2 separate regions of the Homo sapiens genome follow, and region 1 is linked to region 2. The links come from fine-mapping of genetic effects on gene expression. Tissue or cell type: whole blood. Region 2 holds a variant in brackets; the other region holds the start of a gene. All regions are shown on one strand. Distances are from middle to middle.

Region 1 (10,065 bases), 51 kb after region 2:
TGGCATGAGGAGCCAGACCGTACAGTTACAAAGGGAAGCCTTCCAGGCAGAGGGGGAATGAGGACAAGACCCTGAGGTGGGACCAGTAGGGGGCCAATGTAGACAGAAGGGAACACAGGGAATGAAAGGCCAAGTGGTAGGAAGGCAGCTCCCAAACTCTGCTACTGGAGCCCCAGGGACCACCTCCCCAGACATTCTTACTTAATTAAATAAGGGGATGACCTGGGCATCAGGGTTTTTAAAAGGCCCCCAGGTGACGCTAACGTGCTACAAAGTTAGGGAACCACTAATATAAGAGACACAAATGGAGAAGGAGTACCAGATCCAAGTCGGGCCCTCAGTGGTACTCTGGAATTTACTCTGGGAGAGACAGAAGGCTAGTGAAGAGTTCTAAGCAGAGGGATGATCTCACTGGCTGCTGCACAGGGAACAGATTAAAGGAGATGAGCACAGACGTGGATGTTCCTGCAAGAAATCCACTGTGATAACCCAGGTATTGATGATTGGTATTGATGGCATGATTAGGGAGGGAACATTAGTGACAGAGAGTGATGGCTGGATTCTACTCAAGAGAATTTTCTCATACCCTTTATGAGGAGATGAAAAGTTCAGAGTGGAGCAGAGAAACAGAGAAAGGCTAAACGATAGACTGCTTTGCAACACAGAAATGTTCCAGAATCACCTAGCATACTGCTAGGTTTCTAGTCCTCTCCCACCCACGGCCCCCTAATCTGTCTTTTTTTTTTGAGACGGAGTCTCGTTCTGTCACCCACGCTGGAGCGCAGTGGTGCGATCTCGGCTCACTGCAACCTCCACCTCCTGGGTTCAAGCTATTCTTCTGTCTCAGCCTCCTGGGTAGCTGGGATTATAGGGGCCTGCCACATTTTTGTATTTTTAGTAGACACGGGGTTTCACCATGTTGGCCAGACTGGTCTCAAACTCCTGACCTCAGGTGATCTGCCCACCTTGGCCTCCCAAAGTGCTGAGATTACATGTGTAAGCCACTGCACCTGGCCGTCTTTTTTTGAGACAGGGTCTCACTCTTTGGCCCAGGCTGGAGTATAATGGCACAAACACAGCTTACTGCAGCCTCGACTTCCTGGGCACAAGCGAACTTCCTGCCTCAGCCTCCCAAGTAGCCAGGGCCATAGGCGCATGCCACCATGCCCAGATAAATTTTTTTTTTTTTGAGACGGAGTCTTGCTCTGTCACCCAGGCTGGAGTGCAGTGGCACAACCTTGGCTCGCTGCAACCTCCGCCTCCTGGGTTCACGCCATTCTCCTGCCTCAGCCTCCTGAGTAGCTGGGACTACAGGCGCCCGCCACCACGCCCGGCTAATATTTTTAGTAGAGACAGGGTTTCACCGTGTTAGCCAGGATGGTCTCGATCTCCTGACCTTGTGATCCGCCCGCCTCGGCCTCCCAAAGTGCTAGGATTACAGGCTTGAGCCACTGCGCCCGGCCATTTTTTTTCTTTTTTTTTTTTTGAGATGGAGTCTCGCTCTGTCGCCCAGGCTGGAGTGCAGTAGCGCAATCTTGGCTCACTGCAGGCTCCACCTCCCGGGTTCACGGCATTATCCCGCCTCAGCCTCCCAAGTAGCTGGGACCACAGGCACCCACAACCACACCTGGCTAATTTTTTTTTTTTTTTGATTTTTAGTAAAGACGGGGTTTCACCATTCACAGGATGGTCTCGATCTCCTGACCTTGTGATCCTCCCAGCACTCTGGGAGGCCGAGGCGGGCAGATCACAAGGTCAGGAGTTCAAAACCAGCCTGACCAACATAGTGAAACCCCATCTTTACTAAAATAAATACAAAAAAATTAGCCGGGCATGGTGGCAGGCACCTGTAATCTCAGCTACTCGGGAGGCTGAGGCAGGAGAATCGCTTGAATCCAGGAGGCACAGGCCGCAGTGAGCCAAAATCACGTCACTGCACTCCAGCCTGGGCGACAGTACAAGACTCTGTCTCAAATAAAAAAAAAAAAGAACTAGTAGAGCTTAAACCTGGGCAGCGGTGACAGGGATGGAGCCAGGAAATGGATCCAAGAACCTGTCTTGGGGCTGGGAGCAGTGGCTCACGCCTGTAATCGCAACATGCTGAAGGCAGAGGTGGGAGGATCACTTGAGCCCAGGAGTTGCAGACCAGCCTGAAAACATAGCAAGACTCCATATCTATTAAAAAAAACAAAAAACAAAAAAAACAAAAACATAAAAAACACCAAAAAACAAAACTGGGCTGGGCTCGGTGGCTCATGCCTGTAATCCCAGCATCTTGGGAGGCCAAGGCAAGTGGATCACCTGAGGTCGGGAGTTCGAGACCAGCCTGGCCAACATGGTAAAACCTCATCTCTACTACAAATAGAAAAATTAGCTGGGCGTGGTGGTGCATGCCCGTAATCCCAGCTACTCAGGAGGCTGAGGCAGGAGAATCGCTTGAACCCAGGAGGCGGAGGTTGCAGTGAGCCAAGAGGCGGAGGTTGCAGTGAGCCAAGATCCCTCCATTGCCCTCCAGCCTGGGAGACAAGAGTGAAACTCCGTCTCAAAACAAACAAACAAACAAACAAACAATAAACAAAACTGTCTTGAGGTGGGTCGGGGAGGATATCCAGTGAGAAGCTCCAGATAACTACATAATGATGACTGACAGATCAAAACATTATCCCCTGACCAAGTGCAGTGGCTCATGCCTATAATCCCAGCACTCTGGGAGGCAGAGATGGAAGGATGGCTTGAGCCTAGGAGTTCAAGGGTGCAGTGAGCTAAAACTGCGCCACTGCACTTCAGCCTGGGGGAGAGAGTAAGACCCTATCACAAAAAAGAAACCAAACCAAAATAAAAACCTTTACCTCCTCCTAAATAAGGAAACTAAGGATCAGAGGACTGGTATTATTTGCCCAAGGTATTGTAATCTTCCTGCCTTGGCCCTAAGATACACCCCTACCAAAACAACAACTACAACAACAACACTTTATTTTACCTTGAGCTTTAAACTGAAGAGTTTCGCTTACAGCCTCACCACTGGCATCCATGTGATATCGTTTGGCTTTTTCTTGTAATACAGCATCAAAAGTCTCCTGTGTAATTCGTCTGGCTGCCATGTTATTTTGCCCTATGGTGAGAGAGAAAAAAATACACTAAGAGCAACAACTTGGAGCTGGGCGCGGTGGCTCATACCTGTAATCCTGGCACTTTGGGAGGTCGAGGTGGGCGGATCACCTGAGCTCAGGAGTTCGAGACCAGCCTAGGCAACATGATGAAACTAAAATACAAAAAATTCAGGCTGGGTGTGGTGGCTCACACCTGTAATCCCAGGACTTTGGGAGGCTGAGGTGAGCGGATCATTTAAAGTCAGGAGTTGGAGACCAGCCTGGCCAACATGGCAAAACCCTGTCTCTACTAAAAATACAAAAATTAGCCGGGCATGGTGGTGCCTGCCTTTAATCCCAGCTACTTGGGAGGCTGTGGCAAGAGAATTGCTTGAACCCAGGAGGCGGAGGTTGCAGTGGGCCGAGATCATGCCACTGCACTCCAGCATGGGTAACAGAGTGAGACTCCGTCTCAAAAAAAAAAAAAAAAAAATTTCACCAGGCATGGTGGCACGTGCCTGTAATCCCAAATACTCAGGAGGCTGAGGCATGGGAATTGCTTGAACCAGGGAGACAGAGGTTGCAGTGAGCCGAGATCATGCCACTGCCCTCCAGACTGGGGGACAGAGCGAGACTGTCTCAAAGAAAAAAAAAATGCGTGCTCACAGAACCTGCTCTATTTCACTTAATCCTCGAAGTAAGGAGGCAGTAATCCATAATCCTCGCATGGTACTTCAGAGGCAAGCTGGACCCTTTTTATTTATCTTTTTTTTTTTTTTTTTTAAGTAGAGACAGGGTTTTGCTAGGTTGGCCAGGCTGGTCTCGAACTCCTGACCTCAAGCAATCTGCCCACCTTGTCTGGACTCTTTTAAGGGGGTCTCTGCCCTCACGAAGTTCACAGGTGTGTGCTGGCTGAAAAGGAGCAAGACAAACCTTCTCTGGGCCCATCTCCTTGGAATCCATTAAAAGCAGCTCTGTGAAAGCAGTTCTATCTGCTGGAGGAAGGTGTCAACCAACACACATAACTGAGCATAACAGAGTAGGAAGGGTGGGACCACAACCCTCGCAAATCGTGGTTAGGAAAGAAGAGATCAATCTTTTTTTTTTTTTTCTTCCTTTTTTTGAGACTCTCCCTGTTGCCCAGGCTGGAGTGCAGTGGCATGATCTCGGCTAACTGCAACCTCCGCCTCCTGGACTCAAGCAATTCTCCTGCCTCAGCCTCCTGAGTAGCTGGGATTACAGGAGTCCGCCACCGCATCCGACTAATTTTTATATTTTAGGTAGAGATGGAGTTTCACCATGTTGGCCAGGCTGGTCTTGAATTCCTGACCTCAAGTGATTCGCCCGCTTCGGCCTCCCAAAGTGCTGGGATTCCAGGCCGTGAGCCACTGCGCCTGGCCCAGGATCACTCTTTTCCCATTCACAGACTCAGCAGGGCACAGAGGCTCTGAGAACTTCCTTCCCTTCTAAAAGAAGCCTCTTGACAGTGAGTGGCGGGACCCCCAACCAATGACAATGAACTAGTGACAGTTCATTCTGCGCTGGGTCCTTGCGCGATCTCCCAACCACCCACTGAAGAGGCGGGTCCTGTTATGAATGACATTAGGGTGAGGAGGCAAAGGGAGACAGACTCAACGACCCATTCAAGACCAGACAGCCCAGATTTGAACCTGGCAAAAAGGGTATTCGTGCATCCAAAGCCCCGAAGAATGAGTAAAAAGATTAAGCAACATTTTGGGGTCCAGGGGCTGCATCCTTAACCATCAAGATATCCCGCTTCGCAAAACCTCCAACTTCAAGAGACAACCCGTAGGGTCCATTTCCCATCACGATCACCGCCTCCCCCACCCGCCTCCCCCAGTCCCATCCTTCAGCCCTTTTCCCGGGGCGCCCCCTTGTTCTCTGCTGGCAAAGGGCAGGGTTCCCGGGTCAGGTGACCCAGGTTCAAATCACACGATTCTAAGCTTTCTGTGCTTCCGTTTCCCCACCTATGGAATGGGCAGCCAGTAAAGGGGCTGGTGTGGGGGCTGAACCGGTTCTAAAGAGGGCAAGGGCCCGATGCAGCGCTGGGCGCCGTTATCTCCTCCCGAGCGGGGGCCGCTCCGAGTTCGGGAGGAATGAATGAACGACTGAACCAATGAGCCTTTGTGGACGCGGCCCGCCGTCTCCCGGCCTCTGCGGGCGAGGAAATGGGGGCGCCGGGCCCGGGAGGCCGCAGCCGGCCACCCAGGCCAACCCGGCGGGGACGCGGCCGCCGCCGCAGCCAGAGGGCCGAGCCTGCGACGCCATCACGGAGCCCGGGGCGGGCCCCCAAGGCCGAGCCCGAGCTTCCCACCCCGGGAGCCACCCACCGACGACGCCAGGGCCCGGGCCTCACCCCGAGACCACCGCGCGCGGAGCCACCCCCGCCGCCGCCTCAGGCTCCTCACCCGCCGCCGCCGCCGCGCGAGGCGGGGACATGCAAATGAACCAACGGTCTCCGCAGCGCCGCGCCGCGCAGGCGCAAGCCGCCGCCGAGTCCTGGTGCGCAGGCGCGGGCCGCCGCGGCCCGGCTCTCTTGCGCAAGCGCGCTGTCCGCTTCTTCTGGGCGGACGCTCTGGAGGCAAAACATTTCCCTGCTGGGGGCGGCGACCACCGTGAGCGTCCCGGAAGGGGCGGCAAAGACGCCTCCGTCGCGCACGAGGTGGCCTCGTTGGCTTTACCTTGGTTCGCGGTCGTCCTTGGTTATCGTGAGCGTCCGCGAGTCTCTGGGAGGCCAAGCCTAGGGGCGCCACAGCGCCTGCGCGCGTACGGCGGCCGGAAGGGGCTAGAGGCGGCTCCCTGGGTGACAACCGCGCGCCCCACCTTTCCCCACGTGGCCGCGAAGACCGGGTGAGACGCTGCGGCTGCCGAGGCCTGTCCCGCGCGGAGTGGGGAGTGGGGGTGCCGCAGGGTCGGGCTGGCGCGACCCTCGGGTACGTGGTTTGGGGGGAAAAAAAAAATGAAAGAATTTTACAGAAGCCGCCTGGGGACAAAATCCTCGGCTTCCCTGGCATTCGCTTTATTTTCATTCATTTTATTTATTCATTCAGCACCTGTGCACTGAGTGCCTGCTGCGTGTCGGGCCCCGTCCTAGGCAGTGGGGACAAGGAGGCTACAGGGTACAAATAAATGAGTGAACGATGTTGCTCTAGATACAGGTAATGGTGTGCAAATAATAACAGAGTGATGGGACGGGAAAGCAGGGCTGCTCTTTATCTAGAAGTGGTTTTGAAGGCTGTCTCTTGAGTGCTGGGAAGGATGAGAAAGGCGGGGAAGAGGAACTTGGAAGGCTTAGATAGAGAAGGTGCGGATAAGGAGGCTGGGTTTTGTTCTGAGAGGGTTGGGAAGCCACTACCGGGCTTTGAGCACGTGAGTGAGGTGGAGTCTAGGCTCTGGGAGTGGCAGGTGACGCCGCCCTTAGGGGAGGCTGGTGTTTGAACCAGAGTGGGTGTGGCTGGTAGAGGGACATGTGGATGGAGTCTTTTAGAGTCCCCAGCATGTCATGGCACACGTTTAATTTTCTTTTGAGACGGAGTCTTTCTCTGTCGCCCAGGCTAGAGTGTAGTGGCATGATCTTGACTCACTGCAACCTCCACCTCCCGGGTTCAAGGGCTTCCCCTGCCTCAGCCTCCCGAGTAGCTGGGACTACAGGTGCGCAACACCGCACCTGGCTAAATTTTGTATTTTTTTTTTTTTTGAAACGGAGTCAAAAGGAGTTCAAGCGATCTCCTGCCTCAGCCTCCTGAGTAGCTGGGATTACCGGTGTGCACTATCTTGCCTGGCCTTTTTTTTTTTTTTTGAGACGGAGTCTCGTTCTGTCACCCAGGCTGGAGTGCAGTGGCGCAATCTCAGCTCACTGCAAGCTCCGTCTCCTGGGTTCAGGCCATTCTCCTGCCTCAGCCTCCCGAGTAGCTGGAAATACAGGCACCCGCCACCACGCCCGGCTAGTTTTTTTGTATTTTTTTAGTAGAGACGGGGTTTCACCGTGTTAGCCAGGATGGTCTTGATCTCCTGACCTCATGATCCGCCCGCTTCGGCCTCCCAAAGTGCTGGGATTACAGGCGTGAGCCACCGTGCCCGGCCCTGGCTAATTTTTTGTATTTTCAGTAGAGACAGGATTTTGCTATGTTGGCCAGGCTGTTCTCAAACTCCTGACCTCAAGTGATCTACCCGCCTCAGACTCCCAAAGCGCTGGGATTATAGGCCTGAGCCACCGCACCTGGACAGCACAGTTTTCTTGATGAGCAGATTCCTGGCTGAGAGAAGGAAACTGGCTGCCAGTTAGGGGCCTTACTCATCTTCTGTTTTACCCTCAGCATGCCCTGATGGATAATAGGGACTGGTAATGCTGCTTCCCCCTTTTAGCCTAGGCTGTTCTCCAGGTAATTCTTACTTGGCCATCTCCAGGCACCATCTTATGTGTTCCAAATCTGTACTTTCCTCCTCCAACTCAGCCCTGTACCAGATCTAGGGGACCTTGGAGGACTCAGGTCAGGGGTGGTCACAGAGCCAGACCTTCCCAACTCAGTCAGCTCAGGGGTGGGTGGAAGGGAGGGGTTGTGGGTTGGGGAGTGAAGCCAGAGAGTGTGGGCTCTCTGAGTGGCCAGGAAAGGCAGCCACCTGGAAGGGCTGGCAGAAGCTCCACAGAGGACTGAGAATCCGAAGTATTTGAGACAGGTGTCAATCAGTTAGAAAGCTTATTTTGCCAAGGTTAAGGACATGTCTGTGACACAGCCTCAGGAGGTCCTGACAACATGTACCCAAGGTGGTTGGGGCACAGCTTGCTTTTATACATTTTAGGGAGACGTGAGATATAAATGAATATGTGTAAGATGGTCACAGGTAGAGACAAATGATTGCTTTCTTTTGAGTCTTTGGTCAGCCTTTCACAGAATACACGATTTATATGGGGTACAGGGCAGGTAGAGGAATAGTCATTTATGCCTCAGTCCGACTCATGAATCTGAGGTTTTGTTTCTTGTTTTTTGTTTTATTTTTTGAGATAGAGTCTCGCTCTGTCGCCCAGGCTGGAGTGCAATGGCGCAATCTTGGCTCACTGCAACCTCCACCTCCCGGGTTCAAGCAATTCTCTTGCCTCAGCCTCCTGAGTAGCTAGGATTACAGGCGCCCACTACCACGCCCAGTTAATTTTTATATTTTTAGTAGAGACGGGGTTTCGCCATGTTGGTCAGGCTGGTCTCGAATTCCTGACCTCAGGTGATCCACCGGTGTCAGCCTCCCAAAATGCTGGGATTACAGGCATGAGCCACGGAGCCAGGCCAAATCTGCATTTTTACATAAACGTTAGGGCAGAGAGAGCAACTGGATATGCATTTGTCTCAGGTGATGACTTTCTGTCCTGCACTTGTGAAGATCACCTGTCAATTTACATTGCCAGGGTGACATTCAACAAAATTGTTTTCAGGTAAAGATCTTGAGGGCCACAAGGAATTTCCTGGCCTGGCCGGGGTGGTGGGAGTGGAGTCCCCTACTCCTTACTCCCTACTGAGAAACTCTTTATATTACTCTTCCTTCACCTTTAACCTTGGAAATCCATAGCAGCCCTTAAAGAGCTCCCTTTTCTTCTGGGGCAGAAAGGAGAGGGGCCTATCTGCAAAAGAGTGAGATGGGACTCCTGCATAAACTTGCTGAATTGCCTCTTAAGCAACAAAGGAAAGGAACAAATAGCTAATTTATTGAGCCTGTCCATATCCTGTTCTGAGGAAGGTATAGGAGTTGGCTGAATTTTTCACTACTGCCCTATGAAGTAGATTCGTGTTTATCTCTGTTTGACACATGAGGGAATTGAAGAAAAGTGTATCTGGCTGGGCGTGGTGGCTCATGCCTGTAATCCCAGCATGATGGGAGGCCGAGGCAGGTGGGTCACCTGAGGTCAGGAGTTCGAGACTAGCCTGGCCAACATGGTGAAACCCTGTCTCTACTAAAAATACGAAAATTAGCTGGGCGTGGTGGCGTGGGCCTGTAGTCTCAGCTACTTGGAGGCTGAGGCACAAGAATCGCTTGAACCCAGGAGGCAGAGGTTGTGGTGAGCCAAGATCGTGCCACTGCATTCCAACCTGGGCGACAGAGCGAGACTCTGTCTCAAAAAAAAAAGAAAAGGGCATTGAAGTGGAGGGCATGGGAACTGGGTTCTGCAGGCTGGCTGCGAGCCAGTCCTTCTCCCGTCAGGCAGTGTGCAGTCCATGGTGGGCATCTGCAGGAACACAGATGGAATGTGTATATCCCATGCCACTGCCTGAAAAGAGAAGCATGGGCCAGAGTGACCTGTTTCTTTTTCCTTTTTTTTTTTTTTTGAGACAAGGTCTTACTTTGTCACCCAGGCTGGAGTTCAGGGATATGATCTCAGCTCACTGCAGCCTTGACCTCCCTGGGCTCCCACCTCAGCCTCCCAAATAGCTGTAACTACAGGTGCATGCTCCCACACCTGGCTAATTTTGGTATTTTTTATAGAGATGGAGTTTCGCCACGTGTCCAGGCTGGTCTCAAACTCCTGGCCTCATGTGATCCTTCCGCCTCGGCCTCCCAAAGTGCAGGCCACCATGCCTGGCCTGAAGTGGAAACTTGATAATTCCAGAACGGAAACTTGATATTACTGCAATAAGCAAGGTGGATATATTGAAACAATTAAAATTTAAAAAGTTGTTAACCTCTGTTAGGCTCTGGACCTAAGGCCTGTTCCTCCTTTTGTTCCAAAGGGACGGTGGCAAATGTTAGGTTCACTCGTACCCTGTCAAGACCTTCTGGTTAAGATCATCTACAGCAGGGGTCCCCAATTCCTGGGTCACAGACCCATACTGGTCCAGTGGTCCCTGGCCTGTTAGGACCTGGGCTGCACAGCAGGAGGCAAGCGTAGGGTGAGCGAGTGAAGCTTCATCTGTATTTACAGCAACTCCCCATCACTTGCATTATGCCTGAGCTCTACCTCCTGTCAGAT
Region 2 (10,065 bases):
TTTCGCTCTTTTTGCCCAGGCTGGAGTGCAATGGCGTGATCTCGGCTAACTGCAACCTCCACCTCCCGGGTTCAAGACATTCTCCTGCCTCAGCCTCCTGAGTAGCTGGGATTACAGGCATGCACCACCATGCCTGGATAATTTTTGCATTTTTAGTAGAGACGGGGTTTCTCCACGTTGGTCAGGCTGGTCTGAAACTCCTGACCTCAGGTGATCCTCCTGCCTCGGCCTCCCAAAGTGTTGGGGTTACAGGCGTGAGCCACTGCACCCAGCCGATGCTTCTTATCTAATCAGTTGAAGTCCTTCAGAGAGCAAAAACAGCTTCTAGAGGGAAAAAGGAATTCGTAAGCTTGCAACAAATAAAGCCTCCCTGTTTCCAACCTGCTAGAGTGCCCTATGAATTTTGGGTTTATCAGCCCCCACGATTGCATGACCCAATTCCTTAAAATACATCTTTTTTTTTTTTGAGAGAGATAGGATCTCTGCCACCCAGGCTGAAGTGCGGTGGTGGGATCATGGCTCACTGCAGCCTCGACCTCCTGGGCTCAAACGATCCACCCACCTCAGCCTCTGGAGTGGCTGGGATCACAGGCACACACCACCATGCCCAAACTTTTTAAAAACTTTTTTGTAAACATGGGATCTTAAACTCCTGGGCTCAAGCAATCTTTCCATGTCAGCCTCCCAAAGTGCTAGGATTCCAGGCGTAAACCACCACGCCCAGACAAAATAAATCTTAAAAAATTTTTTTTTTTTTTAGAGAAAATCTCTTTCTATATATGTAATATGTATATTTCCTGTTGGTTCTGTTTCTCTTGTGAGCCATTACTGATACAGGCACCCAGAGGCCCGGTGATGGGAAGGAGGCGGGGTTACTTTCCAATACATACTCAGGGAATTTCTTTTTTTTCTTTTTTTGAGATGGAGTTTCGCTCTGTCGCCCAAGCTGGAGTGCAGTGTATGGTCTTGGCTCACTGCAAGCTCTGTCTCCTGGGCTCAAGCGATTCTCCTGCCTCAGCCTCTGGAGTAGCTGGGATTACAGGTGCCCGCCACCATGCCTGGCTAATTTTCGTATTTTTAGTGGAGACAGGGTTTTACCATATTGGCGAAGCTGGTCTTGAACTCCTGGTCTCAAGTGATCTGCCTGCCTCAGCCTCCCAAAGTGCTGGGATTACAGGCGTGAGTTACCGCGCCCGGCCACTCAGGGAATTTCTGAGATAGTGACAGCTTCCGGTGGCAGGACCTCAGCTGATTGCCTTGGCCTTTGTCCGCTGAACCCAGGCCAGCTTCCTAGCCTCGGGCGCCACCCAAGACACCTGCAGACCAAGGACACACATTAGAGGCCTTGGGTTTCACGGTCCTGGGCAGGGCCAGGCCTGAGGTGCTGACCAAGCCTGCTACCCTCAACCAAAATAAACCTAGGGCAGGATGCTGCTTGATCAGCCATCCATAGAACACCACAGCCCGAGCCGGGTCACAGATCTGCTTTGGCTGGCCTGCGGACAGGGAGGTCCTCAGCCGCAAAAGGCCTGAGAGGTGGACACATTGGATTTGAAGACCAAAAATGGCCCCCTTCTGGTTGGGTGCAGTGGCTCACACCTGTAATCCCAGCACTTTGGGAGGCTGAAGTGGGCGGATCACTTGAGGTTGGGAATTTGAGACCAGCCTGGCCAACATGGTGAAACCTCGTTCTCTACTAAAAATACAAAAATTAGCCGGGCTTGGTGGCATGTGCCTTGTAGTCCCAGTTACTCGGAAGGCTGAGGCAGAAGAGTCACTTGAGGCTGCAGTTGCAGTGAGCCGAGATCGCACCACTGCACTTCAGTCTGGGTGACAGAGCAAGACTTTGTCTCAAAAAAAAAAAAAAAAAAGGCCCCCTTCGGAGATGTGGGAGTTGGGGGTGGGGGCAGATTTCAAAGCCTGGGGGATTCGATCTGTCATCTGTGCAACCCAGCTGACTATGTGGCTAAAGTTTAACAAGTTTCACAATAACCATTAGACATTGACTGACACTGCCAGGGAAGTGCTCCAGAGATGGGGAAACCCACGTCCACACAAACACCTGTCCACGCGTGTCCACAGCAGCTCTAGTCATGGTTGGCAGAAAGTGGAAACCTCCCCATGCCCATCAGCTGGTGCATGGATAACAGAGTGTGTTCCATCCACACAGGGGGATATGATACAGCCATGGAAAAGAAGGAAGCACTGATCCATGCTACAGCGTGAATGAACCCCCAAAACACGATGCTGAGTGAGAGAAGCCAGACACAAAAGGCCACACAGTGTGAGATTCCATTGATCTGAAATGCCCAGAACAGGCAAATCCATAGACAGGAAGCAGATTGGTGGTTGCCAGGGACTGGTGGAGGGGAATGGGGAGTGACTGCTGATGGAGACAGGTTTCTTTTTGAGGTGATAACAATGAGCCTGGGTGGCTGGGAGTGGTGGCTCACGCCTGTAATCCCTGCACTTTGGGAGGCTGAAGGGGACAGATCACTTGAAGTCAGGAGTTCAAGACCAGCCTAGGCAACATGGCGAAACCCCATCTCTGCTAAAAATGCAAAAATTATCTGGGCTTGGTGGCATGCGCGCATAGTCCCAGCTACTCGGGAGGCTGAGGCAGGAGGATCACTTGAACCCGGGAGGTGGAGGTTGCAGTGAGCCGAGATGGCACCACTGCACTCCAGCCTGGGCAAAAGAGTAAGACCCTGTCTCAAAAACAAACAAACAAACAATTTATTATCATTATTATAATTTAAGATGGCATCTCAAGCGACAGAATGGGCCTTCGTCTCAAAAAAAAAAGAGCCTGAGCAACATAACAAGACCCCGTCTCTGCAAAAATATAAATAAAATTAGCCAGGCGTGCTGGATACACCTGCGGTCCTAGCTATTCAGGAGGCTGAGGTGGGATCGTTTGAGCCCAGGAGGTCGAGGCTGCAATGAACTATCATTGCACCAATGCATTCCAGCCTGAGCGATAGAGTGAGATCCCACCTAAACCGCATTTATTGAGTATCCACTGTGTGCCAGGCACTGAGCTGGGTGCTAGAACAGAGCCCAGAGTGGGAGAAACAGCTATAAACAGACGATCATAGTGCCAGGGGAATGCTTCTTTTTTTTCTTTTTCTTTTTTTTTTTTTCTGTTTTTTTTGAGATGGAGTCTTGCTCTGTCACCCAGGCTGGAGTGCAGTGGCATGACCTCGGCTCCCCGCAACCTCCACCTCTCAAGTTCAAGTGATTCTCCTGCCTCAGCATCCTGAGTAGCTGGGATGACAGGCGCGCGCCACCACGCCTGGCAAATTTTTTTTTTTTTTTTTTTTTGAGACGGAGTCTCACTGTATCGCCCAGGCCGGAGTGCAGTGGTGTGATCTTGGCTCACTGCAAGCTCTGCCTCCCAGGTTCATGCCATTCTCCTGCCTCAACCTCCTGCGTAGCTGGGACTACAGGCACCTGCCACCATGCCCGGCTAATTTTTTGTATTTTTAGTAGAGATGGGGTTTCACCATGTTAGCCAGGATGGTCTTGATCTCCTGACCTCGTGATCTGCCCACCTCGGCCTCCCAAAGTGCTGGGATTACAGAAGTGAGACACCGCGCCTGGCCATTTCTGTATTTTTAGTAGAGACAGGGTTTCACCATGTTGGTCAGGCTGGTCTCAAACTCCTGACCTCGTGATCCGCCCACCTTGGCCTCCCAAAGTGCTGGTATTACAGGCGTGAGCCACCGTGCCCAGCCTGGATGTTTCTCTTATAGCACAGAGAGGGGAGAGATGTAGCATTTTATGAACCTTTGAAGAATGGAGGAGGGGGTGTGGGTGTTGGGTTTTGGGGGATGAATATGAGTTTGCCAAGTTGAAGGTGGGGGCTGACCATGAACTGAACTTTATGGAATCTAACCAACACAACAAAATAAATCTAATTTTCAAAATGAAAATGAAAATGAGCATATTCTCCTTTGTTGGCGTGAACTGCAGGAATGTTTATATGTGGACACTTCACAGGCCAGCCTGCACCAGGCCTGGCTCATGCCGGCCAGTTCCTTCCTGAAGCTATTCATGTCTGCTGCAAAGATGGGATTAAAAACAGCATGTTGGCCTCTTCATTCATTAGGAGAGTGGAGAAATGGGAAAATTTGGGCTGCCCAAACTCCTCATGATCTATGAGGATAAACAGAAAGTTCAACGCCAGCCCTGACTGAGGACCCCCCACAAGGACTTATCTTCTATGTTTTTCTTTTCTTTTTTTGAGATGGAGTCTAGGTCTGTTGCTCAGACTGGAGTGCAGTGGCATGATCTCAGCTCACTGCAACCTCCACCTCCTGGGTTCAAGTGATTCTCCTGCCTCAGCCTCCTGAGTAGCTGGGATTACAGGCTTGTGCCACCACTCCTGGATAATTTTTGTATTTTAGAGATAGGGTTTCGCCACGTTGGCCAGGCTGGTCTCGAACTCCTGACCTCAAGCAATCCGCCCGCCTCGGCCTCTCAAAGTGCTAGGATTACGGGCGTGACCCACCACGCCCAGCCTCCTTGCTCTCTGAATCTGGATCTCACTTTCTGTAAATCCAATGTGACCTTTGGCTGTTTACTGAGTACAAGACGCTCCTGATGACCCATTTTACAGATGAGGAAATTGGGGCTCAGAGAAGGCGAGAGAGCAGAGACTGGGATTCAGTGAGGAGGGTCCCAGGGGGCCTGATGATGATGATGATTATTATTATTATGGAGACTTGCTCTTTTTGCCCAGGCTAGAGCGCAGGGGCGTGATGTCGGCTCACTGCAACCTCTGCCTCCAGGGTTCAAGTGATTCTC[C/T]TGCTTCAGCCTCCTGAGTAGCTGGGATTACAGGTGTGTGCCAGCATGCCCAGTTAATTTTTGGGTAAAGACAGTGTTTCACCATGTTGGCCAGGCTGGTCTTAAACTCCTGACCTCAAATGATCCACCTGCCTCGGCCTCCCAAAGTGCTGGGATTACAGGCATGAGCCACCCGCACCCAGCCAGGCCTGAATTTTTTTAAAGACAGGGTCTTCCTATGTTGTCCAGGCTGAAGTGCAGTGGCACAATCATGGCTCGCTGCAGCTTTGAGCTCCTGGGCTTTAGTGATCCTCTCACCTCAGCTTCTCAAGTAGCTGGAACTACAAGGAATGGGCTACCACACCTGGCTAGATTTTTAAATTTTTTATAGAGACTGGGTCTCCCTATGTTGCCCAGGCTGTTCTCCAACTCCTGGGCTGAAGTGATCCTCCCACTTTGGCCTCCCAAAATGCTGGGATTACAGGTGTGAGCCACTGCACCTGATTGATGGTGAGTTTGAAGTGGAAGGTGTTTGAAGGGGTGAAAGTGTCCATCAGAAAGCAGCTGGCCAGGCGTGGTGGCTCATGCCTGTAATCTCAATCCCAGCACTTTGAGAGGCTGAGGTGGGCGGATCACCTGAGGTCGGGAGTTCAAGACCAGACTGATCAACATGGAGAAACCCCATCTCTACTAAAAACACAAAATTAGCTGGGCATGGTGGCGCATGTCTGTAATCCCAGCTACTCAGGAGGCTGAGGCAGGAGAATCGCTTGAACCCGGGATGCGGAGGTTGTGGTGAGCCGAGATCACGCCATGGCACTCCAGCCTGGGCAACAAGAGCAAAACTCTGTCTCAAAAGAAAAGAAAGCAGCTGAGACCAATATAGCTAAGGAGTGAAGAGCTGGGTTCCGATTCTGATTCTGCCCACTTGCAGGGGCTCTTCCTAGTCCTTCTGTGAACAGCATCTTGTTGTGCTTGGGGTCTTTCCCCCTTCTTAGCCAATGAAGCCCTAGCTATCAGTGTATTGTAGCCCTCTGGCCACTGTGATTGGTTCAGAGACAGGCATATGCCCCGGGCTGGGGCAATAATAGACAATCTTGGTGTCTGTGCCACCCCTATCAGACAACAGAGCTCTTGTGATGTTGCTTAAATGGGTAAGGCTAGGCTCCGAGTTGCTGGCCACCATCTTGCCTGCCTGTAAACAAAGGACAGCAAAGCCAAGAAATAGAGAGAGAGGCTGGTGGTTTTGGTTGAGTGCCTTGATCCAGCTGATCCTGAAGGTGTCCTTTCCAATTCCATCCACCAATTAATTCCCTTTTTGGCTTTATGCAGCCCAAAGAGTTCCCATGTATTCAGCCCTTAGTGCTGCAGAGACAGCACTATAAACATGTCAGTTACTTCATTCATTAGGAGAGCAGAGAAATTGGAAAATTGAGGCTGCCCTCATTGCTGTCTATGAGGATAAACAGAAAGTCAAAGACCAGGCAGGCTGTAGTGGCTCCTGCCTGTAATCTTAGCACTTTAGGAGGCTGAAATAAGCGGATCACTCAAGCCCAACAGTTTGTGACCAGCCTGGGCAACATAGTGGACCCTGTCTCTACAAAAAGAAAAAAAAAAAAAAAATTAGCCAGGCATGGTGGTGCATGCCTGTAGTCCCAGCTACTTGGGAGGCTGAAATGGGAGGATCACCTGAGCTCAGGGAGGTTGAGGCTGCAGTGCCACCGCACTCCAGCCTGGGTGACAGAATGAGACTCTGTCTCAAAAAAAAAAAAACAAAAAAAAAAAACAGCTAAAGACCAGCCCTAAGAACTGAACTTTCTGGAAATGGCTTGGACGTCCCACCTGCCTGCCCCAGAGAGTTGTTAACCAACGTCTCTGGGCCTCAGTTTCCTCGTCTGTAAAGGGAGCTGTGGTTGCCTAAGGTGAAAGGAGCACAGGTGCCAAGCGTTCTTTGCCATGCCTGGCGCTATAAGATATCCAGTGCTATCTAGGGATGCCCCCCGGGTGCCCACCCTGGACTCCTGCTTACTTGGACTTGGATAAAAGAAGGTTTTCTGGCCAGGTGCAGTGGTTCATGCCTGTAATCCCAACACTTTGGGAGGCAGAGGCGGATGGATCATCTGAGGTCAGGAGTTCAAGACCAGCCTGAGCAACATGGTGAAACCCCATCTCTACTAAAAATACAAAAATTAGCCAGGTATGGTGGTGCCTGCCTGTAGTCCTAGCTACTTGGGAGGCTGAGGCAAAATAATTGCTTGAAACTGGGAGGTGGGGGTTACAGGGGGTTGCAGTGAGCCCAGATTGAGCTGCTGTACTCCACCAGCCTGGGCAACAGAGTGAGACTCTGTCTCAAAAAAAAAAAAAAAAAAAAAAAAAAAAAAAAAAGAAGAAGAAGAAGAAGAAGGTTTTCTGCGTTCTGAGGGACTTAGTTGCTCCCAGACATCTCTGCCTCTTGCAACAACCTGCCAAGAACGTGGAGAGCCAGAAAGGAGAGGGTGAACATCTCTGGACTGAAACAGGGAAACTGTCAAAGGCTCTAGAGTAGGCAGGTGGGACGTCCAAGCCAGAAAGGACAGGTTTGCTCTGGGTTCCTTGCAAGTGACCTCCATGGGGTTCGGGGCTGAGACGGAGCCTACAACGTTGTCTAAGGCCACATTTCAGACAACTGCCAGAGAATGGTTGTTTTACCAAATAGCTGGCCAGCACACGGGGTCTATGTCTCTGTGTCTTTTGGCTAGGTTATTCACACCCCACCCTCGTCAGCTGTCAGGGTTACCCTGGGGAATGTCAATTCCAGGCACTTCTGGTTCCAGTGGGCATTCAGGCAAAGGGTGCTCCAGCAGCCCAGGGTAGCCCTGATACCCTGCACAGGTGCCTGCCATTAAATGGGGCTGGAACCGAGGGGTATAGATGGAACAGTTCAGAATTGCTTTCATTCCTGCCCTGCCCTTCCAGACTGCTCTTTTAAAAGGTGTAAATCAGGCCAGGCATGGTGATACATGCCTGTAGTCCCAGCTACTCAGGAGGCTAAGGCTGGAGGATCATTTCAGCCCAGGAGGTCAAGGCTGCAGAGAGCTATGATCATGCCACTGTACTCCAGCCTGGGCTACAGAGTGAGATGCCGTCTTAAAAATAATAATGATAATGATGATAAATTTTTTGTTTGTTTTTGAGACAGAGTCTTACTCTGTCACTCAGGCTGGAGTGCAGTGACGCCATCCCGGCTCGCTGCAACCTCCACTTTCCGGGTTCAAGTGATCTTCTCGCCTCAGCCTCCCGAGTAGCTGGAACTATGTGTGTGTACCACCATGCCTGGCTAATTTTTGTATTTTTAGTACAAACGGAATTTTGCCGTCTTGCCCAGGCTGGTCTCAAACTCCTGACCTCAAGCGATCCGTCTGCCTTGGCCTCCCAAAGTGCTGGGATTACAAGCATGAGCCACCGCACCATGACAAAAGCCCCTCTCTACTAAAAAATACAAAAATTAGCTGGGCATGGTGGCGCGTGCCCATAGTCCCGGCTACTCAGGAGGCTGAGGTGGGAGGATTGCGTGAATCTTGGAGGTGGAGGTTGCAGTAAGCCGAGATGGCACCACTACACTCCAGCCTGGGCGACAGAGTAAGACCCTGTCTCAAAACGAAAACCAACAAATAAAAATGTGTGGTGAATGAATGAATGAATGAATGAGTGAACAGACAAGATGTAAAAAGCCGATCAGAGCCTCTGCCAAGGAGATGTCAGAGGGTTTTTCACAGCAGCCTTTGAACAATGGCCCTGGGAGGAAGCCAGGCTTATTTCCCCATTTGACACAGGAAGAAACTGTCTTGGTTCAAATCTGATCCTTTTTTCTCCTAAGACCACAGCTGCCTCCGAAACAAAGGCCGACAATTGCTGCCAGCAAGTGCTTTGCTGTTTTTACTTCCTCTAAACATTCTTCAGTGGATTTTCCTTTCAAACTGGTTGTAAGGAGGCACATGGCTGGGTGTTGGTGGGGGGTGGCACCCCTGCCCGGACCCCACACGCTTCCCTACCACGTGGCCGGTTTGGAGTAGACCCATCTTTGTGCTGAAACACAGCCCAACATTGCCATATACGGGGGGCTTGTCTACATTTTACAAGATTTTTACAAAAATGATGCTACACTTTGCAAATGGATTTATTTTTTTTGAGACAAGGTCATACTCTGTCACCCAGGCTGGAGTGCAGTGGTACAATCACAGCTCACTGCAGCCTTGACCTCCCGGGCTCAAGTGATCCTTCCTCCTCAGCCTCCCAAGTAGGTGGGACTACAGGCATGTGCCACCATGCCCGGCTAGGGTTTCTTTTTTTTTTAATAGAGATGGGGTCTTGTTACGTTGCCCAGGCTGGCCTTGAATTCCTGGCCTCAAGCAGTGCTCTTTCCTCTCCCTCCTAAAGTGCTGGGATTGCAGGTGTGAGCCACCACGCCCAGCTTGGAACATCTTTATTTTAAGATGAGCATGCTGGGGCCTCAGGGAGTGAAGTGAATTTTCCAAAGTCACTCGTTGTGACCAGGACACTGGAGTCAAGGCCCTTTCATCATGTCATGGGGTCTAGGTAAGGACTCAGGAAACTTCATTTATTTATTTATAGATAGAGTTTTGCTTTTGTAGCCCAGGCTGGAGTACAGTGGTGCGATCTCGGCTCACTGCAACCCCCGCCTCCTGGATTCACGCGATTCTCCTGCTTCGGCCTCCGGAATAGCTGGGATTACAGGCATGCACCACCACACCCAGCTAATTTTTGCATTTTTAGTAGAGACGAGGTTTCACCATGTTGGCCAGGCTGGTCTCGAACTCCTGACCTCAGGTGATCTGCCTGCCTCGGCCTCCCAAAGTGCTGGGATTACAGGCGTGAGCCACCACGCCTGGCCTTTGTTTTAAGGAGGAGGAGTCAGCCAATGGGATGCCTCAAGGACTGGGTCCACTGACACAGAACAATGGAAACAGATCAGCGATGTCTGAGTTCACAGCATGCGGGTGCTGCTCCTAAGAACCCTTCTGTAGATGCTACTGTTCTCCCCATTTGCAAATGAGGAAGCTGACACTCAGAGATGTGGATCACCCGCCCCAGGTTACACAGCACAGAGAGGACATGTTAGGACTGAGGATTCAAATTCTTAAGGTTTGCTTTCCTCCTGGCAAAAGCAAGTCATGAAGGCGTGGAAGCTGAAATCTCGAGGCTAACGCTCCCCTTTTCACACCTGGCCACAAGCTGCAAGAACTGGGAGTTGGTGCTCCCATGAGTCCAACCTGAGGA

What was found. PIP is the estimated chance that this variant, and not a neighbour inherited with it, causes the effect.
Region 1: it holds the start of SUGP2, and the variant in region 2 is fine-mapped to the expression of SUGP2 in whole blood (TOPMed, PIP 0.96).

Annotation. Positions count from the first base shown.
Region 1 is chr19:19,027,971-19,038,035 of GRCh38, forward strand. SUGP2 (SURP and G-patch domain containing 2) reads right to left here and starts at 5,547. Exons shown (of 11, transcript NM_001017392.5): 1 at 5,467-5,547; 2 at 2,981-3,112. The coding sequence starts at 3,101. It overlaps ARMC6 (armadillo repeat containing 6), which reads left to right and starts at 5,633. Exons shown (of 9, transcript NM_001199196.2): 1 at 5,633-5,960; 2 at 6,161-6,268. The coding sequence starts at 6,240. RefSeq lists an enhancer at 4,279-4,780 and silencers at 4,707-4,786, 5,207-5,636.
Region 2 is chr19:18,976,816-18,986,880 of GRCh38, forward strand. No RefSeq gene overlaps it. Among named protein-coding and RNA genes, the nearest start is that of HOMER3, 41 kb to the left of the region's middle. RefSeq lists an enhancer at 1,275-1,919. The variant C/T (reference allele first, on the strand shown) is at 4,810.